2 separate regions of the Homo sapiens genome follow, and region 2 is linked to region 1. The links come from fine-mapping of genetic effects on gene expression. Tissue or cell type: whole blood. Region 1 holds a variant in brackets; the other region holds the start of a gene. All regions are shown on one strand. Distances are from middle to middle.

Evidence for each region. PIP is the estimated chance that this variant, and not a neighbour inherited with it, causes the effect.
Region 2: OSBPL10 starts here. The variant in region 1 is fine-mapped to the expression of OSBPL10 in whole blood (TOPMed, PIP above 0.99).

Annotation. Positions count from the first base shown.
Region 1 is chr3:31,930,361-31,946,768 of GRCh38, reverse strand. The region is part of intron 1 of OSBPL10 (oxysterol binding protein like 10); the gene reads left to right. Among named protein-coding and RNA genes, the nearest start is that of OSBPL10, 43 kb to the left of the region's middle. RefSeq lists an enhancer at 1-443. The variant A/G (reference allele first, on the strand shown) is at 7,980.
Region 2 is chr3:31,971,263-31,984,304 of GRCh38, reverse strand. It overlaps OSBPL10 (oxysterol binding protein like 10), which reads left to right and starts at 3,043. Exons shown (of 12, transcript NM_017784.5): 1 at 3,043-3,406. The coding sequence starts at 3,126. It overlaps ZNF860 (zinc finger protein 860), which reads right to left and starts at 2,555. Exons shown (of 2, transcript NM_001137674.3): 1 at 2,403-2,555. RefSeq lists a silencer at 3,284-3,353 and an enhancer at 4,908-4,957.

The DNA of each region.
Region 1 (16,408 bases):
GGAAGTCTCAGCTCTGCTAGAATGGGACCAAAGCCCAGCTCCACCTTGAACTTGTGTCATAGCCTTGCTTCTTGTTCCCTCTCCTTAGCCGGGCAGATGCCTTGTCCTTTGATAAAGGCTTCCTGTCACCTCCTGAGGGCTCTTGTGCTTTTCGCAGGTGGATGCCATTACCTTTACCGCTGTGCCTCCCGCAATTGCTCTGTTCACACGCTGTCCGCCATCTGCCTGCAAGGGCCCAGGCAGGGTCTTACTCATCATTATGTCATTGCTTCAATAGAAGCCTAATATTTTGTACATAGTAGTCAGGAAGGAAACGACTTAAAAAATTCTTAATTTTTCTTAATACAAGGGTTTTTTTTTTTTTTGATAAAAAACAACTTAATAAAATTCTTAATTTTTCTTAAATTCTTAATTGATTTCTAATTTTTTTGTTATTATTGAAAAAGTAAAAAACTTGAGTTCCCCCTTTTCATTAAAAAACTTAGTAGTGGCTGGGTGCAGTGGCTCACGCCTATAATTTTAGCACTTGGGGAGGCTGAGGGGGGTGGATCACCTGAGATCAGGGGTTCGAGACCAGCTGGCCAACGTGGTGAAACCCTGTCTCTACTAAAAATACAAAAATTAGCCGGGCATGGTGGCACGTGCCTGTAATCCCAGCTACTCAGGAGGCTGAGGCAGGAGAATCACTTGAACCTGGGAGGCGGAGGTTGCAGTAAGCCGAGATCATGCCATTGCACTCCAGCCTGGGCAACAAGAGTGAAACCCATCTCAGAAAAAAAAAAGCATAAACCAAAACTTAGTAGTGTCTGTTGATTCAGGCAATCCCTAATGGCAAGAGGTTCTCTGAATTGAGTAATGCCTTAAGTAGTTTGGATTTTTTTAGTCATAATAGGATCTGCAGATGTTTGGCCAGTAACCCTATTTGTATGCATGATACGTTATTCGTACCAGACCAGGGGTCACAGGCTCAAATATTCTCCAGGTCTCAGGCTGTGTCACAGAAACAAGGGTGTCAGAAAAGCAGTATAAACCCCTCTGGTCAAGGGCTGCTGACCTCTGCTTTGGCATCCTGAGCGTCTGGAGAAGGTGGGAGCATGGAGACCTGAGAGTGCATCACATCTGACAGGGCAGCTGCTTCTCAGCTATGGCCTATGGTTGCCGTGTAGTGAATGGACCCCATGTTGAGATCCTTGGATATTGCAAGAGAAACTAGAGATGTAGATTTGTGTGAGAAGCTGTCTTAATTTTTAAAGATTGTCAACTGATTCAAAACAATTTTTAAAGCCAAAAATAAAAACAATGAACAAACCAAAGCCTGATTCTGGTCAAAGCAAGTGGGCTTGAGGGCTGGATCGTATGTCACTGACTGACTTTTGTTTTGAGGCTTCCGGTCCAGATAGTGTCCCTAGAGCATATTTGTGGTGACTTTGGGAGCCCCATGTCACTGGTGTTGACTTTGGGGACTGTAACTTTGGACCAGAGTCCTAGTGGCAGGAATTTGACGCCTTGTTTGCTGATGAGGGAGGGAATTTTAGGTAATTTTCTCCTCCCAAAATGACCCTGGCACCCCTTTTGTTAGCATGGCTTGTTCCTTCCTGTTTTTTTTTTTTTTTTTTTTTGAGACGGAGTCTTGCTCTGTCGCCAGGCTCGAGTGTAGTGGTGCAATCTTGGTTCACTGCAACCTCTGCCTCCCAGGTTCAAGTGATTCTCCTGCCGTGGCCTCCCGAGTAGCTGGGACTACACATGTGTGCCACCACGCCCAGCTAATTTTTGTATTTTTAGTAGAGACGGGGTTTCACTATGTTGGCCAGGATGGTCTCAATCTCTTGACCTCAGGATCTGCCCGCCTCAGCCTCCCAAAATGTTGGGATTACAGGCATAAGCCACTGTGCCTGGCCTTTTTTTTTTTTTTTTTTTTTTTTTTTTTTTTTTTTTAAAGAGAGGGGGTCTTGCTCTGTTGCCCAGTTTGGAATGTAGTGGTGCAATCATAGCTCACTGCAACCTTAACTCCTGTACCCACTCTTTTCATGTGAAGCAACCAGATTGGCTGATGGATGTGCTGGGAAGAAGGTGTCTCCAAGGAGATGAGTCAGTGCCACAGCACTGTATTATAGGCATTATGTATTATAGGCATTAGAGTTGTCCTTAGTCTATTCAGGCTTGTATAAAAAGGACAAAGGGAAAATTTAGGGATGGGGACAGCTATCAGGAAGGTGGTGGTTTTACATAAATCTTTCTCTCCACATGTCCATATGTAAATATATCCATGCTTTAGCAGGCCTGTTAGTTTAAAATATGGATTGCCATTTGAAAACTTGACATTTTCCTAGATGTCTTGAACCTTAGTTCATCTAGCCTGGCCACATCATTTAATAGAAAAGATAATTGCTAACACATGGTTTACCAGTTTGGAAGCTGTTCTTTTATATTTTATGATTATATAATTAATTTATTTTTACATTTAAAAAAGCTGCTTATTTTTGCTGGTAGAAATATAGATTGGTATGACTTTTATGGAAGACAAATAGGTAATCTTTATCAACAGCCTTAGCAATGGTTATATTGTTTGATGCAGTGATTCTACTTGTTGTAAGATATGCTAAAATAGTAATCAAAGAAGTGCAGAAGAAATAATTCATGAAAATGTTCATTGCTGTGTTATTTATGACCACAGAAAATATGCAACAGCCTAAATTGGGGAATAGTTAATAAAGTTATGCTTTATCTATCTGATGAAATATTATTCATATATTAAGTGTTGTTTCTAAAGAACTTTTTTTTTTTTTTTTTTTTTTTTTTTTGAGACGGAGTCTTCCTCTGTTGCCCAGGATGGAGTGCTGTGGTGCAGTCTCAGCTCACTCGAACCTCCGCTTCCTGGGTTCAAGTGATTCTGCTGCTTCAGCCTCCTGAGTAGCTGGGACTACAGGTGCGTGCCACCATGCCTGGCTAGTTTTTTTGTATTTTTAGTAGAGACGGGGTTTCACCCTATTGGCCAGGCTGGTCTCGAACTCCTGACCTCGTGATCCACCTGTCTTGGCCTCCCAAAGTGCTGGGATTACAGGCATGAGCCACTGTGCCCGGCCTCTGAAGAACATTTAATGACAGTGGAGTTAATGCTCTTGATACAATGATAAGTGGAAATAACCCAGTTTTAGTTAAAATATCCATGTATGTCTGTCTCTGTGTATGTGTATAACTAGACAGTAAGATTTTAAGGGAATATTCTGAAATATTAACAGCGACTTTCTCTGGGTGGTGTAATTATTTTCCAGATTTCCTACAATGAACATGTGTTGCTTTTTAATCAGGAAAAAAGTCCAAGTTTTTTTTAAAACTATTGAATGTACTTGATTAAAAAAAATACTGTGTATTATATGACCTAGCAATTCTACTCCTAGGTATATACCCAAAATAATTGAAAGCAGTGACTCAAATAGATACTTGTATGGCAAGGTTCATTGTAGCATTATTCACAAGATTCAAAAATGGAAACAACCCAAGTGTGCATCAGTAGATGAATGGACAAACAAAATGTGGTTTATATGCACAATGGAATATTATTTAGTCATGAAAAGGAATGTAGCTCTGATACATGTGGCAACATGGAGGAACCTTGAAAACATTATGCTAAGAAGTCAAATAAGCCAGTTACAAAAGGACAAATATTGTATGCTTCCCATTGTATGAAATATCAATACTAGCCAGATTCATAGAGGAAGAAAGTAGACTAGAAGATACCAAGGGCTGAGGAAAGATTGGAATGGGGAGTTATTGATTGATAGTTACAGAATTTCTCTCTGGGGTGATGAAAAAGGTTTGGAAATAGATAGTAGTGATGGTTGCATAACAATTGTGAATACAACTAATGTCACTGAATTGTACACCTAAACATGACTAAATGGCAAATTTTGTTATGTGTATGTTATGATTTAAAAAATTTGACATAATTTTTTTTGTCAAAACTGTGTTAGCTAATTGTGTGTTTGCTATTTTACATATGGTGTTTACTTTCAATGACAGTGGCTATCACTTTTTGGTTCATTTATCTCAATTTTTGCTTTTCACTTTTACCCCTACAGACATGCCTGTGCTTTAAATGGGTTTGTTGTTTTGAAGGTTTCAGATGCCAGGCTCAGATGCTGACAATGGAGCCAGGCAGGTAATGAGGCATCTGGGAGGATTTAAAAAAAATGTATAAGAGGAAATGTGTCACTTTTTTTTTTTTTTTTTTTTTGAGATGGAGTCTCACCCTGTCGCCCAGGCTGGAGTGCAATGATGCGATCTTGGCTCACTGCAACTTCCAACTCCTGGGTTCAAAGGATTCTCCTCTCTCAGCCTCTTGTAGCTGGGATTACAGGTGCCCGCCACCCAGCTAATTTTTGTATTTTTAGTAGAGACAGGGTTTCACCATGTTGACCAGGCTGGTCTCAAACTCCTGATCCGCCCGCCTTGGCCTCCCAAAGTGCCGGGATTACAGACGTGAGCCACTGCGCTCAGCCCGCTTTTTATATTGAGCCATACATTGCATTCTTGTGGCGCCATCTCGGCTCACTGCAAGCTCCGCCTCCCAGGTTCACGCCATTGTTCTACCTCAGCCTCCCGAGTAGTTGGGACTACAGGTGCCTGCCGTCACGCCCAGCTAATTTTTTTGTATTTTTAGTAGAGACGGGGTTTCACCGTGTTAGCCAGGATGGTCTCAATCTCCTGACCTCGTGATCCACCCGCCTCGGCTTCCCAAAGTGCTGGGATTACAGGCGTGAGCCACCGTGCCCTGCCATACATTGCATTCTCGACTGGGAGAAGAAGGAAGAAAGAGAAGCCCTGCTGGTAACCAGCAGCCAGCCGATAATAGTTCTGGAATGGTGAAAAGTATTCTGGCAAATCAGATAGCACTTGAAGAAATACAGCTAGCACTTTTTTGCTTTGAAGATTGATTTGGCAGCTAGAAGTGCTAGAGGAAGATCTTTACTTATATTCTCTGCTTCCTGATATTTAAGGAATTTATTTCACTTGCAATTTAACACTAGTCCATTTTCTTTCCCTTTCAAAGGAAAGATGGGCCCCTCTGAGATGTGAAAGATGGCAGGTGGCTGAGGCTGCTTCTCTTAAAGCTACCTCTTAGCAATCCATCTAAAAATGATTATGGAATACAAGAAATTGGGGTCAGCAGGGATCTTGGCAGTAGGCAGGCAGCCAGATCCCTCTCAGGGGAGTTTGAGGTGTCTAGACTTGATGCTTTTGAGCTCTTGGTACGTTTCCAAATCATTGTTTGGCTCCTAGCTGCTTCTGTTGGAATTTACACAGCTCAGAGAGATTTGTTGGGCTAACTCTTGCCTCTGCTTAAATCAACTGAAAAAGTGACCACTTTCGTATCCATCAAAGAGTCTTCCCTTTGCTCAGGATGCCCTCCCTGAGATTCATTTATTTACCCAATAAGACTTTCATTTTCCTTTTATCTTGGCTTTTAGAGTAAGAGTTAGCAGAGTCTGTTTGTCTTGCTTTTCTTTTTTGTTTGCACCGGATCTTGATATAATACAGTCTCCTGTGTATATATGGTTACTGAAGTATTAAATATAAAATACTGACCTTTTATTCTTTCAAAGTTATTTCCTTAAATATTGATATTGCAACTGTTCATCCTTCTGTGTTTAGCTTGAGGAGAAAGCAATTTTTGAATGTTTCATTCACCTGTCGGACAAACGTTGAGTACATTTACCATTCTCAACACCTGGCACACCCTCAGCAAATAACTTGGAGACCCTGTGCTCAGGGAATTCACATTCTGGGGAGGGAAATGGTTAAGCACAAGCCTTTTTTAAGATGAGAGAGTTGGCCAGGTGTGGTGGCTCATGCCTGTAATCCCAGCACTTTGGGAAGCCAAGGTGGGTGGATCACGAGGTCAGGAGTTTGAGACCAACCTGGCCAATATGGTGAAACCCCGTCTCTACTAAAAATACAAATCTAGTTTGGGGATTGGGAAGACTTCCTGGCAGTAGTAACATCTACGCTGAGTCTCAAAAGACAGTAGGAGGTGGCCATGCCAAAGCTGTGGGGTTGTTCAAGCAGAGAGGCCAGGGGTGAAGGAGAACATCATCTATTTGGGAAAAGATAAGAACTTCAGTATGAGAGCAGGGTAGCCTGTGAAGGAAGGTGACGAAGAAGGAGTACAGAGAATCATACAGGTATGAAATCCCAAAGGCCTTTGCCATGAGATTGTGGCACTCTCAGAAAATACTTAAAAAAGGGAAATGAGGTGGCAATTTTATACATTCATATTATCAACACATCAAACCAGATATAGGACATCTCCACCAGCCCAGAAAATTCCCCAGTGCCCATTTCCAGTCAGTCACCCACCCCACCTCTCTACAGCTGCTTTCTGACTTTTATCACCAGTTATGTCTTTCTCAGATTTCATGAAAATGATGTTACGTAGTAGGTGTTCTGCCATGTCTGGCTCTCTTAAGTCAACATAATACTTTGGAGCTCAGCCACATTGTTGAGTGCATCAGTCGTAGCTCCTTTTCATTGCTGAGTAGTGTTCCATTGTATGGGTTCACCCAGTTTGCTTATACATTCTGTTGATGGACATTTGGGTTGTTTCTAGTTTTTGGCTTTGATGAATAAAGTTGTTGTGAACATTTCTTGTGTAAGTCTTTTTTGTGGACATATATTTCTATTTCTCTTGGTTAAATACTTAATCATGGGATTGCTAGGTCTGGCTGTCTATTAAAGAATATATGGAGTGGGCTGGGTATAGTGGCTTATGCCTATAGTCCCAGTGCTTTGGGAGGCCGAGGTAGGAGGATTGCTTGAGGCCAGGAGTTTGATACCAGCCTGAACAACATGGTGAGACCTCGTCCCTCTATTAGCCAGGTGTGGTAGCATGCACCTGTAGTCCCAGCTACAGGAGGCTGAGGCAGGAGGATCGCTTAAGCCCAGGATTTTGAGACTTAGGTTCAAGACTGGCAGTTTGAAAAACAGTGAAGTAAAAGGCAGACAGAGGGAAAAGATTGGCTAGCAAGATAGAAAGAAACCCAGGAGTGTGTGCATGAATTGAGGGCTCAGGGAAGATGTTCCAGAGAAGCCAGGTCAAGTGTGGTCTGAATGTGTTTGTGGAGTTTGGTCACTATGGCCATGCTGGTGTGCTGCTGACTGTAGCTAGGGGAGTTTCACTGGAGGGGTGGGGAAGGAAGCCAGATTCACTGGGAGAGAAGTTGGGAGAGATAAATCTAGAAGCTTGACTGTGAAGAAGAGGTCATAGTTGGAGCAGGCGTTAGGTCTGAGGGGAATTTTTTTGTTTTTTTTTTTTAAGATGAAAGAGTTGGCCAGGTGTGGTGACTCATGCCTGTAATCCCAGCACTTTGGGAAGCTAGGGCGGGTAGGTCACAAGGTCAGGAGTTTGAGACCAACCTGGCCAATATAGTGAAACCCTGTCTCTACTTGAAATACAAAAATTAGCTGGGTGTGGTGGCATGCGCCCGTAGTCCCAGCTACTCGGGAGGCTGAGGCAGGAGAATCGTTTGAACCTGGGAGGTGGAGGTTGCAGTGAGCCAAGATTGTGCCACTGCACTCCAGCCTGGGCGACAGAGTGAAACTCTGTCTCAAAAAAAAAAAAAAAAAAGGATGAGAGAGTCTTGGCACATTAAACTGAAAAGAGAGGGAAGTGTGAGAGCATAAGAGAGCATTAATGTAGTAGAGCAAATGCCTGGGAAGTCTAGTGTGGATAGAGTTCTGAGCTGGGATGCATGTTGATCTGAAGCAGGAGGAAGGACATTTATCCACTGAATGGGAAGGAAGACATTGATGGATACAGATGAAGGTGAGTTTGAGGGTGGGCAGGAAGTTGAAGGCGTTCTTGCTTTACTCTCTGTAAAGTAGGAGGTGAGGTTATCGTCTGAGAGTGGAGTTAGAGGAAGGGTTGATGGTGGACCCTGAGGCTTGGGCAAAGTCGAGGAGGTTTGAAAAAGCCTCTGGCC[A/G]GGCATGTTGGCTCACACCTGTAGTCTCAGCACTTTAGGAGGCTGAGACAGAGGATCACTTGAGCCTAGGAGTTCGAGACCAGCCTGGGCAGCATAGTGAAACCCCATTTCTACTTACCTGGGTGAGTTGGCGTGTGCCTGTAGTCCCAGCTACGTGGTAGGCTGAGGTGGGAGGATCACTTGAGTCCAGGAGGTCAAGGCTGCAGTGAGCCATGATCGCACCACTGCACTCCAGCCTGGGCGACAAAGTGGGCTCTATCTAAACAAACAAACAAACAAAAAACCCCACAAAAACTTCTGAGGGGAATGGAAAGAGAGCTCAACAGGTTTGCTGGACAGCTCTGAGGGTGTCCAGAATGGAGCCCCTGAATCTGTTATGCCATCTGCTGTTAATGGTTGTGTGGTTTTCTCCTTGGTGTTGAGTATCCTGAGGAGAGGAACAGAGAAGGTGATAGGTAGAAGGATCTGGGGTTGGGATTTGGTTGAGTGAGTGTTTAAGAGAGTGTGAGGGAGTTGAGATCATTGGTTAGTGGGCAGTTGATGTAGGATGGAGGAGAAAGGAGATGTAGACAGAAGAGGCCTGTCAGAGAAGAAGAAAATAGAGGTGCTAGCAAATTGGAGCATCAGAAGAGATGGAAGAGTTGGTGTGGTGGGAGAGGTGGCATGAGAGATCTCAGGGAAGGAGTTCGTAGGGTCAAAAGGAAATGCAGTGAGATGTTTGGCAGGTACTGTCAGAGTTGGAGCCATTCTGAGTAGTGATGGGAAAGCCACGCTAGGTCTTTGGGAGGAAGACAGTAACACCAAGAAGGAGGTTACAGAATGAGGTCAAGGAACTAATTGGGCAGTGTGCTTGGTGGATTCTAAGGTCATTTGGAATGACTGCTGGACTTGGTGACTCAGGGAGGACTGAACCAGGGGAAAAGGTCTTCAGCGAATGAGATAGAATGATTGAGAGACATGGAGGTAAATTTTACCCAAGAGTGGAGGAGTCTTATATTGGAAACAGCTTTGGGCAATAAGGAGAAGCTACAATGTGCTTCCATCAAGAGTTCCAGGTTTCAACCAAGATAAGAAGAGAGGTTGGGGGAAGGGTGGTCCCAAGAGGTTCAGTACAAAGGTGTAGGAGGGTGGGGATCCAAGGGAAGTTTTGGACTGTGGGTGTGATATTGTGGGAAAGGGTCGGGGGTCTGGGGGCAGGAAGGGGCTTGAACTTTGGACAGGACTGAAAGGCATGATGGGGGTGAGTGGCTGTATTGTTCTTCTAGCTCCCCTGCTGGCTAGGAGGAGCCAGTCTTCTCTTTGGAAGCAATTTGAGAAGTGCTCTGCTGGACCTAAATTGATGCTGTCCAAATTTCTGCCTTGAGGCAAGTTGGCTATGCCTTCTCGGATGAGTAATTTCAGCCCCTAAAGAGTATAGCAAATCCATATAACCAAGAGTTGGCAAGAAAAGGCTCTTTATGACATTTGAGTGTTTCATGTTCCTCTGACTTTCTTTCTTTTTTTTTTTTTTTGAGCCTGAGTGTCTCTTGCCCAGGCTGGGTGCAGTGGCGCAATCTCGGATCACTGCAACCTCTGCCTCCCAGGTTCAAGTGATTCTTCTGCCTCAGCCTCCTGAGTAGCTGGGACTACAGGCACATGCCACCATGCCCAGCTAATTTTTGTACTTTTTAGTAGAGACAGGGTTTCACCATGTTGCCCAGGATGGTCTTGATCTCTTGACCTTGTGATCTGCCTGCCTCAACCTCCCAAAGTGTTGGGATTACAGGCATAAGCCACTGCACCCAGCCATTCCTCTGACTTTCTAGAGGCCTGTTTACTGGAAGAGTGAATAATCTCAACTGCTTCTTTTTTTTTCCTGGTATCTAGAAAGCAGAAAGATAAGAAGACTCCTTGGGGTTTCAGTTCCATTCAGTGCCTTGGTTACACGGTGTGATAAGTCATGTCTGGTTCTTGAAAGTCAGCAGTGAATAAGCCTTTCCCAGTGTAGAGCATAGGGTTCCTTTGGGGAATTTAAACACATTTTTCTTTAATGGCTGAAATGAAGTGTGGCTCTTTTCATGGAAGTTTTATGTATTTGACCTATTTAATTTTTTTTTCTTCAGGAAATAAAAAATGCCACTTTCTTACTTCCCTTCCAAAACAGACAACCACTGACTTTTCTTGGCAAGGAGATACCTGTGTGTGTCATGGAAATGGATGGTGTTTGGAAATGTGAAAAATGTAATTTACTTTTTCTTTTCACCATTGAAGTGGATTAAAAGAAGTGAATATTTTAATGGAACTGGATATGATAAATGTCTTTCTTGTGAAAGCTTTAGAATCAGAATGAAAAATTATGTTTTGATTTTTCCCTATAAATATGCACATTTATTCTTGGAAGTAATACTAGAGTCTGTTTGTTACAGCATTTAGCTAACATGAGGTTTCAAAGGACAGTCATTTTGTACAGATTGAATACAAAATATGCAGAAGGGACTGCCTCAGTAAATAAATGCTAAGCCCTAGGTTGTTTTGGTAGTATTTTAAGAAAATAAGAGTTGCTGGTGTACCTTAAAGAATGTAAGAGAGAATAAAAAGAAAACAAAAATGAAAATAGGAGAAAGAAAAATTATTAAAGCATGAGAGGCTGAAGCAAAGAATGAGTGAAACCTTAGAGAAGCTCAGGAATGGACATTTAAAGACCAGTGGGGAATGTTAGAACAGAGGGGAGTTACATAAGGAAATGACAGTTCAGGAGTTGAGAAGGGATGGTGAAGAGGAGAAGGGGGTATGGCCCAACCTGTAAAAGCATAAAGTGGAAAGATAAAGGATTTTTCTCACTAGAATGGTGACTTTACATAAAAAGTAAAAACATATCAGATCCTGCTTGTAGAATTTTGTTATCACTTCAGCAATTTTATTTCCAGAACCCCTTGCTTAAACGCAACCTATTTCCTTTCCCTTTCTACATATGAAAACCAATTATTTTGGCCGGGTGCGGTGGCTCATGCCTGTAATCCCAGGACTTTGCGAGGCTGAGGTGGGTGGATCACAAGGTCAGGAGTTCCAGACCAGCCTGACCAACATGGTGAAACCCCGTCTCTACTAAAAATACAAAAATTAGCCGGGCGTGGTGGGGGTCACCTGTAATCCCAGCTACTTGGGAGGCTGAGGCAGGAGAATCGCTTGAACCCAGGAGACAGAGGTTGCAGTGAGCCAAGATCATACCACTGCACTCCAGCCTGGGCGAAAAGAGTGAGACTCTGTCTCAAGAAAAAAAAGAAAAAAAAAAAAAATCTATTTCATAGGAGTAGATTTTTTTTTCTTCTTTTAGTTCCCAAAGCAGCATTTCCCAGGATGAATTGCACCAAATGCTGTTTCAACAGGCTGTTCAAAGGAAATAAAGAATTTTATGTTCAAATAACTTTGAGAAATACTGTATAAAAAAAAAGTTTAACATGTTTATTTACTGCACAGTTCTCAGATCCCTTAACATCAAATATGTATTTTGAATTTCTAAGATAAATGGTCTCTCTTATCTAATGGAATTCTGGTTTTGCTCTGGGTGGCAAAAATTATAGTTAAAAATTCTCATCTCCCCAGACTCCCCTGTTGCCAAAGGTGACACAGTAGCAGCCAGTGAAATATAAGTAGAAGTGGTTGCAGGGCAGAGGCTTCCAGGAGAGCTTCGGTTTCTTGATAAACAGGATCTGTGAGGCTGGCACACAACTTTCCCATTTCCCTTCCCACCTTCCTGTATGAAGGGGATGTAGCAATCTTGTCCCAGGAAGGCCAAGCGCTAAGAGTTGCAAATCAGAAAGATTGAAGGGGTTCTTGATGGCTTCTTGCAACTACTCTACCAGCCTTGGAGTTTCTATCTTTGGACTGGTTGCTTTAGTAGAAAAATAGAGCCCCGATTGTTTAAACTACTATGGGTAAGTTTCTATGACATGCAGCTGAATGCAATTGTAACTCATACCAGGGTGATATATAGTAAGCAGTAATTGTGCTTATGTTAACCGTGGATATCCAATTTTTTTTCCTTTAAACTATTTAGAAGAGTCTTTGGGAAATGCTACGTTTATGAATAGAAATGTAGTAATATAGTCAGCCTTTTTTTTTCTATAAAAATGAATTTTCTCTTGGGAGGCCGAGGCGGGTGGATCACCTGAGGTCAGGAGTTTGAGACCAGCTTGGGAAACATGGTGAAACCCCATCTTTACTAAAATACAAAAAATTAGCTGGGTGTGGTGGCAGGCACCTGTAATCCCAGCTTCAGGAGGCTGAGGCAGGAGAATCCCTTGAACCTGGGAGGCGGAGGTTGCAGTGAGCCGAGATTGTGCCATTGCACTCCAGCCTGGGCGCCAGAGCGAGACTTTGTCTCCAAAAAAAAAAAAAAAGAATGAATTTTCTGATGGTCTTTGACTATGAAATTTGGGTTTAAAATTTTGGGCTTTTCCTTTGCCTTTTCCCCACACAGATGAAGTTTTTGCTTCCTTTTTTTTTGTTGTTGTTGTTTTTTAAATGGGCCAGGCTGATCTTGAATTCCTAGGCTCAAGCCATCCTCCCCCGCTCAGCCTCCTGAGTAGCTGTTACCACAGACAGGCATCACCATGCCTGGCTTCCTTTTTTGTAAAAACAACAAACAGACCAAAAAAGCCTTTGTAATTAGTTTATGCCTCTTACCAAAGCACTTTATATATGCCAGGTTTTTTTTTTTGTTTTTTTTTTTTTAAACAGAGGTGGTTTTCATTAGCCTATTCATGCCTTCTTTACAGTACAATTGTTCTGAAAATTTGTAGGGGAATTGACTCAGATGTACATTTATTTTCGTCATACTATCAGAGATGTTTAATTTCCTTTGAATGATTTTATTCTTAACTGTAGCACTTAACACTTTTTTCTGTCTTCTTTCCTCTCAAAATTAATGTCTGTAAACTAATGTTTAAGTGGCCTAGAGAGTCTCTTAATGTAAAAGCTTGTTGTAAAGTTGGAAATCTTTTGTAATTTGAATACCCCTTGATTGCTGTCCTTCAGTGCATTGGATTGTCCTAGGGTGTTCTAATAGTATTTCTCAATTAGCTGATAAAAGAATTTTAGAGGCTGGGTGCCCTGGCTCAATCCTGTAATCCCGGCACTTTGGGAGGCTGAGGTGGGAAGATTGCTTGAGCTCAGGAGTTGAAGACCAACCTAGACAACATAGTGAGAGCCCACCGTCTCTGCCAAAAAATGTAAAAACTCAGGGGAATGTGGTGGTGTGTACCTGTAGTCACTACTGCTCGGGAGGGTGAGGTAGAAGGATTGCTTGAGCCCAGGAGATCGAGGCTGCAGTGAGCTATGATAGCACCACTGCATTCCAGCCTGGGCAACAGCAAGAGACCCTGTCTCCTAAAAAAAAAAAAAATTTATTGTTTCCCCCTTAAAGGACATTTAAAGTATACTTCAAATCTCTAGAATATAAAATCAGAATGTTAAAGTTGAAGTGGCCCTTAGCAAATGAGTCTAACCTCCTCATTCTGCAGCTGAAGGGATCGAGAACTTACCGAAGGCCTCATTACTGAGCCAAAAGGATGGCAGGACTGGTGCTCTATTCATGAGTCTGCTCACTCTGGTGATGGCCTGACAATAACAGTGTGGGAAGTTACACAACTCATTTCAGTGATCAGTTTCTCCATGCGTAAAACTGGAGTAACTTCTCATTTGCTCAACCTGCAGTAAAATCTTTAAACTCTTCTGAGTTGCTTGGAATTGAATCCTTATTCTAGTATACTGTATTTGTTGGAAAGGAGAAATATTTGATTTTAGAAAACTTTATTTTTAAATAAATTTGAGTTTATTGCAGTATATAAAATTGAACCTTTTCAAGTGTACAGTTCAATGAGTTTTGACAAATGTATGTCTTATGAAACTGCCACCATAAATAAGAATATTCTACCATCTTAAAAGGTTAGAATTTGTTTTGCTTTGATTAATGAGAGAATACTTTCATTTTCTGTAATAAGAATATGGATAAAATGTTACAACTATTAAAATATTGACATACTTCATTGTTTTCATGAAAGCTGTTAAATTTTTGATTCTCTTGCTGACACCAAGAAGAAGGAGGGGGAGGAGAAGGAGCAGACATCATTAAAATGATGTTAAATAGCCTCTTTGTGACATGGGGAGTGTGTAATGGACTTTAATATTATTCAGGTAGAAAAAATGATAGGTAAGGATATAGTAGACTTATTTTTATTATACGCAATGTAAAACTTTACAGATTTTCCTGTGGGTTTGTGGAGACAAGGTGTTCGTTAAATTTAAATCATAGGGAAACCATTACCAATGAAATAAATTGTATATCTTCTTACATTGTTATTTATTTATTTATTATATTGTTAGAACAAGCAGCATCAAGGTACTTAAGCCATTTGTATCCCATTTGAAAGGCAGGAAGCGAAATCACTTAGGGCATTGAATTTGAGGCAGTGTTGTCTTGGAGGTAAGGAAAGTTTTAAGCTAAGCAAAGAAACTGGGAGATGCGGGTGGAGGTGAGGAGACCGTGTTCGGAGTTGGAAACTCTAGTGAAATGGATTATTTTAGCATAAACTTATCATTGGCAAATAACAGTGTTTGGTTTTCTTAAACTTTTTTTTCTTCAAGTTTCTTGAATGAGAGACCATGTTTTTCATTTTCATTTTTATTTTTCGGTATAATATAATCAGATATATAAATTCTGTAAATTTTTTTTTCTTCATTTAAAAAGATTATTTATTTGTTTATTTTTGAGACAGAGTCTCGCTGTATTGCCCAGGCTGGAGTGCAGTGGCATGATCTTGGCTCACTGCAACCTCTGCCTCCTGGGTTCAAGTGATCCTCTCACTTCAGCCTCCGGATTAGCTGGGACCATAGGCACACACCACCTTGTCTGGCTGTGTTGCCTAGGCTGGTCTCGAACTCTGGGACTCAAGAGATCCACCCACCTCAGGCTCCCAAAGTGATAGGATTATGGGCATGAGCCACCATGCCCAGCCTAAATTCTGTAAATTACATCACTATTTATTATTTATTCATTTATTCAAATAACATTTCTTGAGTACTTACTATGTGCAAGACACCATTCTAAGAGTTTTGAGAATAAAAAGATGGATTTGATAATGAGTGTTCTGTAAGAAGCTTCTAGTGTAATTGGAATTAAAAACATAAGCACAGACAACAGAACTGTAAAGGTGGCTTGGATTTGAATGCCAAGACAAGGAGCGTGGCATTCTGTAAGCAGTCAGCTTCCACTGATGTATAGAGGAAGGACTTCATCAGGTCTAGGCCAAGGTCATCTCCTTAAAGGGAGTTGAATCTGGTGGTGGAGTATAGGTGCATTCTTAATGGGTAGAGGGGAGTATGGAGACCAGCTAGGGGACCCTTGATAATTGTCTAAGGACTTGGAGTGTGTCCACAGAATTGGAAAGGAAATAGGTTAAGCAAGAGATGTTTTAGAGAGAATCATCAGAATTTAATAAGTGGTTGGGGGCTGGGGGTGGAGAGTGGGGAGTGTTTCAAATGCTACTAAGATTTTTTAAAAATTTAATTTGAATTCATTTTTTAGTAGGTATTACGTTCACATGGTTTTCAATCCAAAAGAGAATGCCATGAATTGTTTCCCCCTTCCTTCTGTCTCTCGGTCTCCCTCTCCAAAGATAATCACCAGTGTTATTGGTTTCTTCTATATGCTCCCAGAGATATTGAATGCCTATGTAAGCAGATAGGTGTGAGCACTCTTTTTTACTATCTTTTTTTTTTTTTTTTTTTTTTTTTTTGAGACCGAGTCTTGCTCTGTCGCCCAGGCTGGAGTGCAGTGGGGGGGATCTCGGCTCACTGCAAGCTCCGCCTCCTGGGTTCACGCCATTCTCCTGCCTCAGCCTCCCGAGTAGCTGGGACTACAGGTGCCTGCCACCACGCCCAGCTAATTTTTTGTATTTTTAGTAGAGGCGGGGTTTCACCATGTTAGCCAGGATGGTCTCGATCTCCTGACCTCGTGATCTACCCGCCTCGGCCTCCCAAAGTGCTGGGATTATAGGTGTGAGCCACCGCACCCAGCCTACTATCTTTTTATTCTACCCAGTAGCAATTTATTTTTCACTTACACTGTTTTTTAAAGATCATTCCATAGAAGGAGATAAAAGGCTTCCTAACTCTTTTCTTATGACTACATAGTGTACCTTGTATGGATTTACTGTGATTCATTCATCATTCTGCTATGGATGCTCATGTAGGTAGGTTCCAGTTTTTGCTGTTACAAGCAATCTACATTGCAATACCTGTACATACATACTTTCTCGCATGTGCACCTATTTCTGTGGGGTAAATGTTGAGAATAGAAATAGCTAAGTGTAAAGGTATGTACATTTTTAAATTTTGATATATGTTGCCTAATTGCCCCTTATAAAGGTTGTACACTTCCATTAGCAAAA
Region 2 (13,042 bases), 39 kb before region 1:
ACTTTGGGAGGCCGAGGTGGGCGGATCACGAGGTCACGAGATCGAGACCATCCTGGTGAACACAGTGAAATCCCATCTCTACTAAAAATACAAAAAAATTAGCTGGGCATGGTGGCAGGTGCCTGTAGTCCCAGCTACTGGGGAAGCTGTGAGGCAGGAGAATGACGTGAACCCGGGAGGCAGGGCTTGCAGTGAGCTGAGGTCGTGCCACTACACTCCAGCCTGGGTGACAGAGCGAGACTCCAGTCTCAAAACAAAAACAAAAACAAAAACAAAAAAAACCCCTTAGGCTCTGAATTTTCAGGGAGATTGATTTGAGTAATAATACACTCCTGTGCTCCAGCTTGGCTGGCCCTACAATTGTTAAACTCTTCCTCTATTGCAAAAACCTGCATTGGCTTTTCCGGGTAACAAGCAAGATGAAACTGTTGGGCATTACAGTATGTATTTCAAATACTTTTTGCCAACTTATTATGTATTTTCCAAATTGTTTTTCAAACATAAAGACTTTTTCCTCTCCAAACATAATTCTGCAGGTACCTTTTCCCTATTTGCTATACTACGGTAGGTCAAGGAAAGCTTTCTGGAAGAAGTGACTTGTAATCCATAACTCCATGGGTGAGAAACACAAACCGGGTGAAGAGAGCAGGGAACAGTGTCACCAGCAGGAGGAACAGCATGTGCTTCATCACTCTTTCATGATATAGCCTCTACTTTCAGCACATCTGCTCCACTCACCTCTTGGACATTTTTGATCCCATACGGCTGGCTTGCTCCTGCCCCATCCTGGCCTTGACTATTCCTTTTAGCTTAGTTCCTTCCCCACTTGAACTGGTCTATCTCAAGGGTCTAATTTTTTAGTCCAAGGTGAGAATTTGTTGTGCTAGCTCATTCAGTCTTAGGTTGGCTGCATAAGGTGGAGTAATGGTGGCATAGGTTAGGTAATATGAAATAAAATGACACTTCTCCTCTTTTAGCAGGAGCTTAAGGTGGCAGTCTCCAATAAAAGGCATGTTGTTTTGGTACATAATGCTGACATTTATAGTCCAGTATGCACCTACCTTCCCACCTTCAGTCTGTATGTCAATGCAGGACTCAATGAACACTCATATATGATCAGTAAGTTAGCTTAGGCAAAGCTATGCTGTGGTAAAAAATAATGCTAAAATCTCAATGGCTTCAAACAAACATTTTGTGCATGTTACATGGCCAACACTAACTGGCTTAGGATCTGCTGTATTCCACACCTTCTCACTCCAGGACACAAGCTTAAGGAGAGTCCTTATCCGGGACATGCTGCTCTCCTGGGATAAGGAAAAGAGAAAGATGGTGGAACCATATGACTGCTCTTAAAGCTTATGTTTGGAAGGGGCATTCATTACTTCTGTTCACATTCCATTGCTCAAAGCAATTCCATGGCCAAGCCTAAGGTCCATGTGGAGGAAGGATACTCTTTCCATAGGAAGCGGCAGTAAATATTTTGAACAAATGAACATTCTTGCATAGTTTATTACAGCCGGTATCATTTGTCCCATTTTGCAGTGAGAAAACTAAGGCTAAAAGAGGTAATTTGATCAAGGTCATAGGTTAGAATTCAGCTCTGAATGGCTTCAAATTTGGTCCAGGCAAGCTCTTTTCAGATTTTTTTTTTTTTAACACTATGTAGGCACCTGGAATTGTAATTTACTCAGGGGCACAACCACTTCTCTTCAACTCCAGAAGCTTCTCCGTGCATCTCTAGAGCTAAACCACCCATGAAATCTTCCTGGAAGGATGTGAAGCTAGAAAGGGGTTGGGCTCGGGGAACTGTCCCTTTGAGAGCTGACTTTTCCATTTAGTAATTTTTTTTAACTCTTGAAGTATTTATCTGCTTGATGGGTTTGTAGATCCTTTGGACGGAGATCACCTATCATCTATCACCTTTTGTTTTGTCTGTGTGTGTGTGAGAGAGAGAGTCTGAGTTCCTCAAAGCTTTTTTCTAGGTAATTTTTGATACTTCAGATTACAATGGATATCTATATTCACAAAAAATATTAGTGGGATAGAAAGAGTATCTTTAGGTAGGAAGAGGGGCGCAGAAGTTACAGCCAACACAGAGAATCCTTCAATGTTTGTAAATATCTGTTAATTTCCCTTGCCTCTGGAGCAGTTTTCCCGGTTTCAGAGCCTCTGCTCCTAGGTGCACGTGCAGTGTGGTAGCAATGGATAGGTTTTGACTTGCCAGGTTTATGCGTGCCATTCAGGGCAGGGGATTAGGGTTAGGCCAGTGAGTGACCTAGGACACTCAATTTAAGGAAGCACTCGCACAAACCTGAGAGTTCGCGCGCCTCACCCCAGCCCAGCCGTGTGTCTGTTAAGCATTTATCATAATCCTGCTGCATGAAAATGCCCGGCGAGCTTACCTGTGAGGATCACCTGCCACTCCCCTCCTCCGCCAGACAACGCGGAGGGCCTCCCTGAGCTGTGACTTTGCTCCGCCGGTGATAATTTCCAGGTTACTGTGTAGGAGCGTCTGGCGCAGCATCGTGTGCGGAAGACCGAGAGAGGGAGTGTGCGTGTGAGCCTGTCAGGCCGGGCGGGTCCATATCCGGGTGGACCGGGTGGGTGGGGCTGCCCCTCCCTCCAGGTCCCGAGGTGGATAAGGGGTGGGGAGTGACGTGCAGAGATTCCCTTTCGCCCCTTCGGATCCAAGAGAGGGTGGCAGAAGGAATGCGTGGGTGACTTGGCGTGGATTTAGGGCGTGCCCACCCTGCAGATCGGCCTCCTAGAGTGTCCCGAGGGCCTGAGAGGCCGCAGGGACACGAAGGAAGAGAAGGAGGAACCCGAAGAGGGCTCGCCTAGCCGGCCACCCGCTCCGAACTTGCCCGGGAAACTAGTGCGGAGGGAGGGGCCGGGCCCTGGCCGCGGCGGGAGGAGGGGCGGCCGCAGCTGCATCCAGCCCCGTTGGCTTCCTTCCCAGCTCTCCTTCGCCTCCTCCTCCTCTTCCTCCTGTATGAGTCAGGCATTTCCCGGGGATTTGGAGCAGGCACGCGCGGCCCGGGCGTCCGGAGCTGTAGCAGCAGCAGCAGCCGCCGTGCCGGGGCCGCCACCGCGGCGGGCACCCGCGTCCCGGGCGCCCACGGACCATGGAGAGGGCAGTCCAGGGCACAGACGGCGGCGGGGGTAGCAACAGCAGCAGCCGCAGCAGCAGCCGTGCTACCTCGGCGGGCTCCTCGCCCTCCTGCTCTCTGGCGGGCCGGGGGGTCTCCAGCCGGTCGGCGGCGGCCGGGCTCGGCGGCGGGGGAAGCCGCAGCAGCCCGGGCTCTGTGGCCGCTAGCCCGTCCGGGGGAGGCGGCCGCAGGAGGGAGCCGGCGCTCGAGGGCGTGCTCAGCAAATACACCAACCTCCTCCAGGGCTGGCAGAACAGGTAACGCGCCAGCCGCCCGCGCCACCGCGCGCCGCTGTGTGTGTGTGTGTGTGTGTGCGTGCGTGTGTGTATGTGTGTCTGTGTATGTGTGTGCGCGCGCGATTGTGCCTTCAGCGAACCCAGTGATGCCTCCCAACGGTGCCCTTCCTGCGTCCCTGCTCCCCTCCAGGTGGGGTTCTCAGGATGGGGCGCGCCGTGGCTCCACCCCGGGACCGCACCGCAGTGGCGGGGAGGGAGGCGAGAGCCCTGGTTTTCTTCTATGCTGGCACCTGCAGAGACTGGAGTGGTGGCAGGAGGATCGTGCTGGTCCCCGTGCTCTGCTTGTCCGCGGTTTCCCGCACGCCTGAAGAATGACTGGGAAAGGGAGGCAGAAGGGGCGTGCTTTGTGCCGGGGTGAAAAAGCGTTAGCACGTCCGCTCCGATTACAGTAATTCTCTAAGTAACAGTTCATTTTAAAGTTTGGTGTTTCAGAACACCACCACCATCAACAAAAAACCTGCCACTTGTCATCCTGGGCGACTGTGCATACTCCTGCCCCAGTTTGTGCCTTGCAGCCTCCGATGTTTGTAATGGAAGTTTTGTTTAAAAACAGAAAGAGGCCGGGCGCGGTGGCTCACCTCTGTAATCCCAGTACTTTGGGAGGCCGAGGCGGGCAGATCACGAAGTCAGGAGTTCGAGACCAGCCTCGCCAACATGGTGAAAACCCGTCTCTACTAAAAACAAAAAAAATTAGCCGGGCGTGGCGGCGCGCCTGTAATTCCAGCTACTCCGGAGGCTGAGGCAGGAGAATCGCTTGAACCCCGGAGGCAGAGGTTGCAGTGAGCCGAGATCGCGCCATTGCAATCTAGCCGGGGCGACAGTGCGAGACTCCGACTCAAAAAAAATAAATAAATAAAATAAAATAAAATAAAATAATAAAAAGAAAGAAAAAATACCCTCCCCCTTTTAATATTAGTAGCAATTTACATTATTATCATTATTTCCTCTTCAGGTCCCATTTGAAGTTTCCTGCTCACTTCCCCCTTGCAGTTGAGAAGCCTAGTTATGGACACGTGGAAGGATGGGGCTGTCGAGGAAAGGGGCTCAGGAGGCACTTGGAATGGTGGTAGTGTGTGTGATCTGCCATCGTGAGGAAGACAAGAACAGATGTGGCACTACTGTTTACTTTTTGTTTTTGTTTTTTTTTTCAATTTGTTTTCCAAAAACAAGCCAGAGGGAAATACAAGTGTCAGTGCGAGGAGAACAATGCTTTTTGGAGAGGTGGTTGGTGGGATATTTTGTCCTGCCTATTTAACAGTCTCCAGATCTTAATAGACTTGGGGCTCTTAAGGATGTTTGTGAGATTTGAATTATACCCTGGAAAGTTGCTTATCTCTGCTGCATGGACTATATTACTTGGTTATCTCTTCCTGTAGATTGTTTGGAAATGTTCAGATTTGCTTCCATCTGAAACATATCAGCCAGTTATCTGCACGAAACTCAACTTGGAGGAAGAGGTCTTTTGAAGTATGGAAACTGAGTTGTTTCTATATTGATATTCTACATATAGGACTTTCTGAGTCACCTGGGCTTCCTGGGAGATGTGTTACTATGTTAGTGGAAGTTGCACTTAACTTTTGAATCCTTTTATTTCTCAAAATAGTCCTAGTGTCTGCTGTTGCCTCTCCCTTCCCCTTTCAATTCGTGAAAGCTGAAAAAGAATAGGTAGAATGCGTAGGTAGAGGGAGATATGAGATGACTAAATCTGATTTCAGTTCTTGGTAATTATGTCTCGTTAATGGCAACTCAAGGTGCCTTGTCAGTAACAGCATTTTGTTGGTGTGTTGAGCAATCACTTAATGCTTTTTCTTCAAGTAGATTATGAGGCCAGCAAAGCTTTTACCCTGGATTACAGTTATTTTATTATTTACTTGCTGGGGAACAATATTTTACCTTGCAGTCTGTATTAAAGGATTTGTTATTTGGAGTGGATTTAGGAGGCATTGGAGTAACATTCTTTTGCATTATTTTAAACCCATTGTGGTGTTTAGATTGGAGGCAAGGTTGAGAAGAAGCACATTTAATGCCAATAATAATACCTACGTGATAGCAGGCTACCTAGGTGAAATGTGGTATTAAGTACACTCCTGAGCATGCTTAAGTGATGTCTCATCTTTATTGAGTTTGTTTACTGCAATTTATAGCTGTCTGCCTATGTTTGTTCTTACCACAGTAGACTCACCGTTTTCCAAGTCTACCACTGACTCCATAAGCATCGTCTGTAATTGTTAACATCTCAGTGTCAGGGTTTCTATTTCCCACATTTTGTTCTTTGAACGATGGCTGAGGGTCCATTAGTGGTTTGGAGAAGATTACGATGACTCTGTGCTTGCAAAATTCTCCCTTCTCTAGGGGTCTTATGAAGGGACAGATGGATTAGTGAAAAGGAAGAGAGAAGAGGATAAAAATAGAAACTTTGAAAATGTATTCATTTGTTCAATTATCTATTCACAGACTGTTTTATTGAGCACCTACTATGTGGCAGGAACTGTTCTAGGAGCTGGAGCTACCACCCTTCCCTGGTCCAGGGAAATGCCTTAGTACAAATAGTTAGCCAACTGATTCCTGCTGCCTTTCTTTCTGGGCCTCATAGCATCTTCCTTTGGCAGTTCTTTTCAAAGTGCCCACAGTTAATGACAAATCTATAGCAACCAAGTTCTTGGTTCATCCTCTCAGGCTGCTGTGCAATTGTAGTGCTCTTCACCAGCTCCCAGGACTTAATACCAATCACCCACTAACAGTTTGTACCCTGGTGTCCTCTTGCATGTTCTCAAGTTGCTGTAAAACTTATATTTTAACACTTGGCATCATATTCTGCCTTTATTTGTAGCCTCATCCTCATGCCCTTAGGAAGGCAGTTTGGGCCAGAACACAAAATAAACGACATAAAGAGAGGTCACAGAGAAGAACACTGTATGATGGGAACGTGCTCAACTCAGGAGAGTAAGTTCAGGACATTTGGCTCACACTCACTGGATGAGAATGTGAAATACTTAGAGTATGGGGAAAACATGCATTAAGGGCTTTCTGTCATTCATTATTATAGATATTTAAAGAAAATATTTCAGGCATAATAACATTGTATAGATTTACAGGATGGCACTGAAGAGTAAATACATTGATACAAATGAACAACAATAAAAAATCCAGAAAGTGGCAAGTGCTATGAAGGTTAAAAAAAGGTGATGAGATAAAGCAAGTATTTGCAGGAATAATTTTAAGTGTGAGTCTAGTGTTTTTACTGCTATTCACATTGTCACTTAGAGTACTCTCTTATTACCCATCTTATCACTCATACAGAGTGAACCATGGGGAGAGTAAACCTCGAGAACTTGAGGAGGCAGATGACCTAGCACCTAGTTGGCCAGGATTAGAATTTCAGACTGGGTTCTGGTGGCCCAGAAGGATTTTAGGAAGGGAAGTGACACTTATTAGGTCACTTTGGCTGCTGTGTAGAGATGAGATTTTCAAGGGGCCAAAGCATGAAGCAGGGAGACCAGTTAGGAGCCCATCTGAGTGGTCCAGGAAAGAGATGCTGGCGGCCTGGGCTGGGGGTTGGCAGAGAACTGGAGAGAAGGGATAGATCTGGTGTGGAGAGGATGGAAATCGCTGATGAATTTGATGTGGAGGTGAGAGAGGGGCAAGAATAACTCTTGATTTGTGGGCCTGAGAGGCTGGGAGGTTGAGACGTCCTTTGTGGAGATGAGGATCACAGGAGGGGAATGTGTTTGTGGGGAGGGTGAGGCTTGGCCAAGAGTTCTGTTTGGACTGTGTTCAGTTTGAGGTGCTTACCCCTAGTAAGAAACTGGCTGTATGAACTTTCATTTGCCCTAAGTCAAACTTTACTCTCAAACTAAAATGGAGCTATTTTGGAGTTGCTCATAATATCAAGTATTTGAGGAAATAATTTCTAATTGGATCTAGAAATTGTTATTTAAATATCTAAGGGTTGCCATTGCCATTCACTTTTTCTTATTTGGAGAAAAGAAGACACTGCGAACGTGGAACCAACCTTCAATTCTTTTTTTGGTGATTGGCAGGGTTGTAAGAACTCAATAAAATGCTGAATGACAACAAATCTTGACTAGGATTAAGGAAGACAAGGCTGGGTGCATTGGCTCACATCTGTAATCCCAGCACTTTGGGAGGCCGAGGTGGGAGGATTGCTTGAGCCCAGGAGTTCCAGACCAGCGTGGGAACCATGGTGAAACCCTGTCTCCACAAAATAAAAATATAAAAATTAGCCAGTGGTGGTGGCTTAGGCCTGTAGTCACTGCTGCTCAGGGGTCTGAGTTGGGAGGATTGCTTGAGCACAAGAGGTCAAGGCTGCAGTGAGCTATGATCACACCACTGGACTCCAGCCTGAGCAACAGAGCAAGACTCTGTCTCTAAAGTAGACATTTATTTGGGGAGGAAGAGTAGTGTGAACTTTGGATTCAAATCTTGACACCAACACTTAGCACACATGTGACCGTGGGCTAGCTCTTTAATTGCACTGGGCTTCTGTTTTTCTCTTCTGCTAAATGTGGGAAATGATGTTACTCTTTTCATTAGTTCAATGTGAAGATTAAATGAGATTATTGGTGTATAAGGGACTGAGAATAGTACATAGCAAGATACCAAGAAGTGGTAGCTATTATTAGATCTTCAATTTGTCTGTTTTTAAGTAGGCACTTTCTGGTCCATAAAATTCTTGGTTTTTATTCTGAGTGCTGTGGTTACCCTGGGACCACATTAACATAATTATCATAGAGTTCTTTGGGGAGAAGATGATTACTTCATTTTGAAGGGATCCTTTTAAAACTTGGCACCAAACATTTACAGCTCCCCTTCCCAGCCTCTAAATCCTATCTTCCTTTCCTATTTTATTTCTCTCCATATACCTTGCTATTATCTGACATGCTTTATATTTTACTTTTTTTGGTCTCTCCACACTAGAGTATAAGCTCCCTGAGGACAGATAATTTTGTTTGTCTTTGTTGCTGCTGTTATCTCCAGTGTTGAGAACAGGGTCTGGTATACAGTAAGGGTAGAGTAAGTATTGTCAAATGGATAAAAAAATGAATAAATGTCAGAGAGGGAAACCAGGGCTTAGTTCTATTTGAGCCAGTGTTAGCTATTATTAGTATCAGAAGTCTTGGTTCTGTACCTGCTTGTAACCTTGTCCTTGTGTTGCTGTGTTTATCATCTGTCCTGCTCTCTGCAAACAGTCTTTGGTTCTGGATCAGGGAGTATGACTCTTCCTGTGACGTGCCCACCCTGATTTAGGGCCCACCACAACTCACCCATTGGGGGCCATTAGTGACCAAATATCCAGGGCTTGCTTTTGACTCTATCTGGATTAACAACATACGTTGAGTGTTTAGTGTTTAGCCCCCAGCATTTTGGTGCCACTTATCCCAAATTAAAGCATCACTGGGGTATATATGAATTTTTAAAGCCACCTTGAAGGAAAATAAGTGTTTTTTTGAGTATCCCAATAATTTTAGAGGGAATTGGTGATACCAGGGTTGAAAATCACTGCTCTGGGTTTTGTATTCTTGTCCGCGTGTACATAGGAAATATCTGCATATCTTCCTGTGTAGTCTGCCAGAGTGTTTTGAGGCCGTGTGCTAAAATCCTTTAGGGACACTAACTAGTTTCATTGATGGTAATAATAAAAGGGATGGTTGCCTAGGTTACAAAACACTGTATAATATTGTTTATTCACTTATGGTTCAAAATACGTATTGAGCACCTGCTTCGTATTAACTACTCCCTGCAGAATCTGCCCTCCCCCTCCTTTGAAAGTGTGTGTATATTTGAGGAGATTCACACCAAAATGGTTTTCTTTGGTTGGTGGGATTATGGGTGATTTCCATTATCTTCTCTTGTCTGTTTTCCCAAGGTGAATGTGTGTCTGTTTTGCAGTTTGAAAAAGTTGTTGAGGCAAAGAAAAGCTGCTCATGCCTTTTCACGTCATCTGTCTAACTGAGTTTTGCGAGTAAATTTCAAGTCTAATCTACATTCAGAAAAGTACACAAATCATATACATACACAGTTCAATGAATTTTCTTAAATGGAACACACCCAGATTAAGAAACAGCTGCCAAAACATTCCCTGTCCCCCACAGCCCCTTTCCTCATAGTATCTCCCCGCATACGGTAACTGCTATTCTGACCTCAACACCACTGAGTTGTTTGGTCTCCTTTTGAACTGTGTATTGTGTAATATGTGATCTGTGTGTCTGGCTTCTTTCTCTTAACGTTATGTTTGGGAGGCTTACGCATGTTTCTGTGTATAGTTGTGGTCTGTTTATTTTCATTGCTATTTGGTATTCCGTGGTATGAATATACTGAACACATTTGTCTATTGTAGGTTGGTATTTGAGTTCTTTTCAGTTTTTGACCCTATTCATAGGGTCACAATGCTGTGAACATTCTAGTACCTGTGTTTGGAGAACATAGGTATGCATTTCTGTGGATATACACCTAGGAGTGTTTGCTCATGTCCAGCTTATTAGATACTAGCAGAGAGTTTTCCACAGTGGTTGTATGCATTAATACTTCCACCAAAAGTGTGTAGAGAGAGTTCTGTGTGTACCACATTCTCATCCACACTTGATATTGTCTCTTGTTTTCATGTCATCCAATTTTAATTTGCCTTTCCCTGATGACTACTGAGGCTGAACATGTTTTCACGTATTAATCGGCCATTGGGATGTCATGTTTTGCAAGCTGCTCTTTAAGTCCTCTGCCCATTTATCTGTTGGGTGTCTGCCTTTTTCTTCTTGACTTTTACGAGATGTTTATATATTCTGGGTATGCGCCCTTTGCTGGATGCCTGTATACAGGTGCCTGGGCACTGCATATATAGAGACACGGTGTATTATGCAGGCATTATGTCCTGTGGATATACCACAGTTTGTTTATCCATTACCTGTAGGACAACATTTGGGCTGTTTCCAGTTTTTGACTATTACAGATAAAGCTGCTATTTGTGTGTAAGTCTTTGTGTGGTCACATGCTTTTATTTCTTTTGGGTAAATACCTAGCATTAGAATTGCTCGTGTATCCATCCTATGTAGAAAGTGCTAACCTGTTTTCCAAAGTGGCTGAACCATTTCACACTGCCACCAGCAGTGCATAAGTGAATAGATGGCTCCCCATCCTGGCCATCTTCATGTTGCTACCTGGAGAGCTTTTGGAAAACAGGACTGCCACTTCCTCATGTGCATGGCATTGCTTCTGAGAGGGGCAGTCTAGGGAGAAGCTGTGTAGTCCTTCTTACCTTTCCAGCTTTGTCTCCTTTTGGCCAAATGACCTTGGGCAAGTTATTTAACTCTTTGGGCCTTGGTCTCTCCATCTGTAAAATGATATGAACCTCGCAGTGTTGTGAGGCCACCACAGGCACCAGTCCTGTGCTTGGTGCACAGTAGGTCCTCAGCAGAAGTTTGTGAGTGAGAGTCTTGTATTTTAGATAGACTAGTGACTAGCTTTCTGGAACCTAGGGGTTGCATTGGTGGTCACTTAAGCCCCAGCCTTGGCAAATCTGCAGGTGTCTTAGCCCTGCCTCTCATTACATGAGGACCCAGTTGACTTAAGCCATTTGATTTGCCCAGTGGCTGTCTGCGTTTGGTGTGCTTCCTCAGAGGCTGCTTGTGGACAGTTGTCTGAGGACTCTGGGAAGAAAGAAGCCACATGGATGGGCCTTTGTGTCCTGAAAGAAGGGTTGAAATGATTGTGCCGGAAACGTGGGAGGCTTTTTGCAGTTCTGCCTGGCTCCCACTGATGCGATTTGGGGCCAGGCCAAGACAGAATTAAAAAGAAAACCATCCAGAATTTGAATTTTGATAACCTAGACTGGACTGAATATGGTCACAGCCCAGAAAATGCTTTATTTGTGCCTCATGCAATGATATCAATAATAATGATAAAATTAGGAAACATTATATATGGTCTTTTGTTGCAAGTCTGTTCCTTGAAGGTCAGAGAAGGCATTTGCACCATGAATAATCTTTTCTTTTTGTGTTGTAGTTTTTAGGGGACTATTTATGTTTTTGTGTGGTTTAGTCCCTTTCTATAAATATATTGATGAAAATACAAAGAGTTGAAAGGCAACCAATATCAGTTTTTAGTCACTCTTTTCCAGGATGTTTTAAGTATTTATCTGCACGGCCAGCCTTGTGGCCTGTGCAGGCTGCCATGAGTGGTTGGGTGGGATTGGACGTTTTTTGGAAAGTGGTGGGGTTCAGGTTCTCCTTATGTGTGGGTAGAACTGGGGGCTCTGTTCTGGCCTTGTGTTCAGGGCAATCGAGTAGATTAGGTGACTGATGCAAATGATCCTCACTCAGCCGTCTCTGCAGTGCTCACTCCGTCAGAGCTGTGTGGGCTGCTAACAATGCAATGAAAACCACCGCTGCAGCTGATCTGGGCTTTTTGGTTGTTAAGTAGAGTCTGGGCAGAGTCGGGAAACTTTCTTTTTTCTTTTTGAGACAGAGTCTCGCTGTGTCACCCAGGCTGGAGTGCAGTGGCGTGATCTCCACTCACTGCAACTTCCACCTCCTGGGTTCAAGCGATTCTTCTGCCACAGCTTCCTGAGTAGCTGGAATTACAGGCGTCCGCCACCACACCCAGCTAATTTTTGTATTTTTAGTAGAGACGGGGTTTCATCATGTTGGCCAGGCTGGTCTTGATCTCCTGACCTCAGGTGATCCGCCCGCCTTGGCCTCCCGAAGTGCTGGGATTACAGGCGTGAGCCACTGTGCCCGGCCCAGAGTTGGGAAACTTTCTAAGCCCTGAGTGAGGTGGCAGCACCATCCCCCAAACATACTCCTCTTTGCTTGAAATTATGCCTGGTGGAATTTTTATACCCCAAATATTTTTGAGCGCTTTTTATGTATATGTCAAATGCCATGTGAGAAGCAGGAGACAGGAGGAAGAAGCACAGGCCCTACCTTAAGGAGCTGACAGTCCATAACAGAGGGGAGCAGACTTTTCTGTAAAGGGCCAGATAGTAAGTAGGTTAGACTTTGTGGGCTATACAGTCTTCATGGCAACTACCGAGTGCTCCTTTGTAAATAAGTGGATGTATCTGTGTTCTATAAAACTTTATTTATAAAAGCTGGCGGTGGGCTGATATAGCCTGTGAGATGTAGTTTGATCATCCTTTCCCTATAATTACACTTAGATTTCTTATGCAAGTAGTTGAGGCAGCCCAGTGTTGGGGCTAAGAGTGTAGTTTCTGAGGTCCAGTAGCCTGTTTTTAAATCCCAGCTCTACTCTTTGCCTTGGACAAGCTATTTGACCTTTATGTCGCAGTTTCTTTATCTGTAAAATGGGGATAATATGGTGTCTGTGTCATAGAGTTTTGGGGATCAACTGAGAAGCTGTGTATAAAGGGTTTAGGACAATGGGTGGCACATAGAAAGCACTCATTAGGGCCAGGTGCAGTGGCTCATGCCTGTAATCCCAGCACACTGGGAGGCCGAGGTGGGTGGATCACCTGAGGTCAGGAGTTCGAGACCAGCCTGGCCAACATGGCGAAACCCTGTCTCTACTAAAAATGCAACAATTAGCGGGCATGGTGGCATGCGCCCGTAATCCCAGCTACTTGGG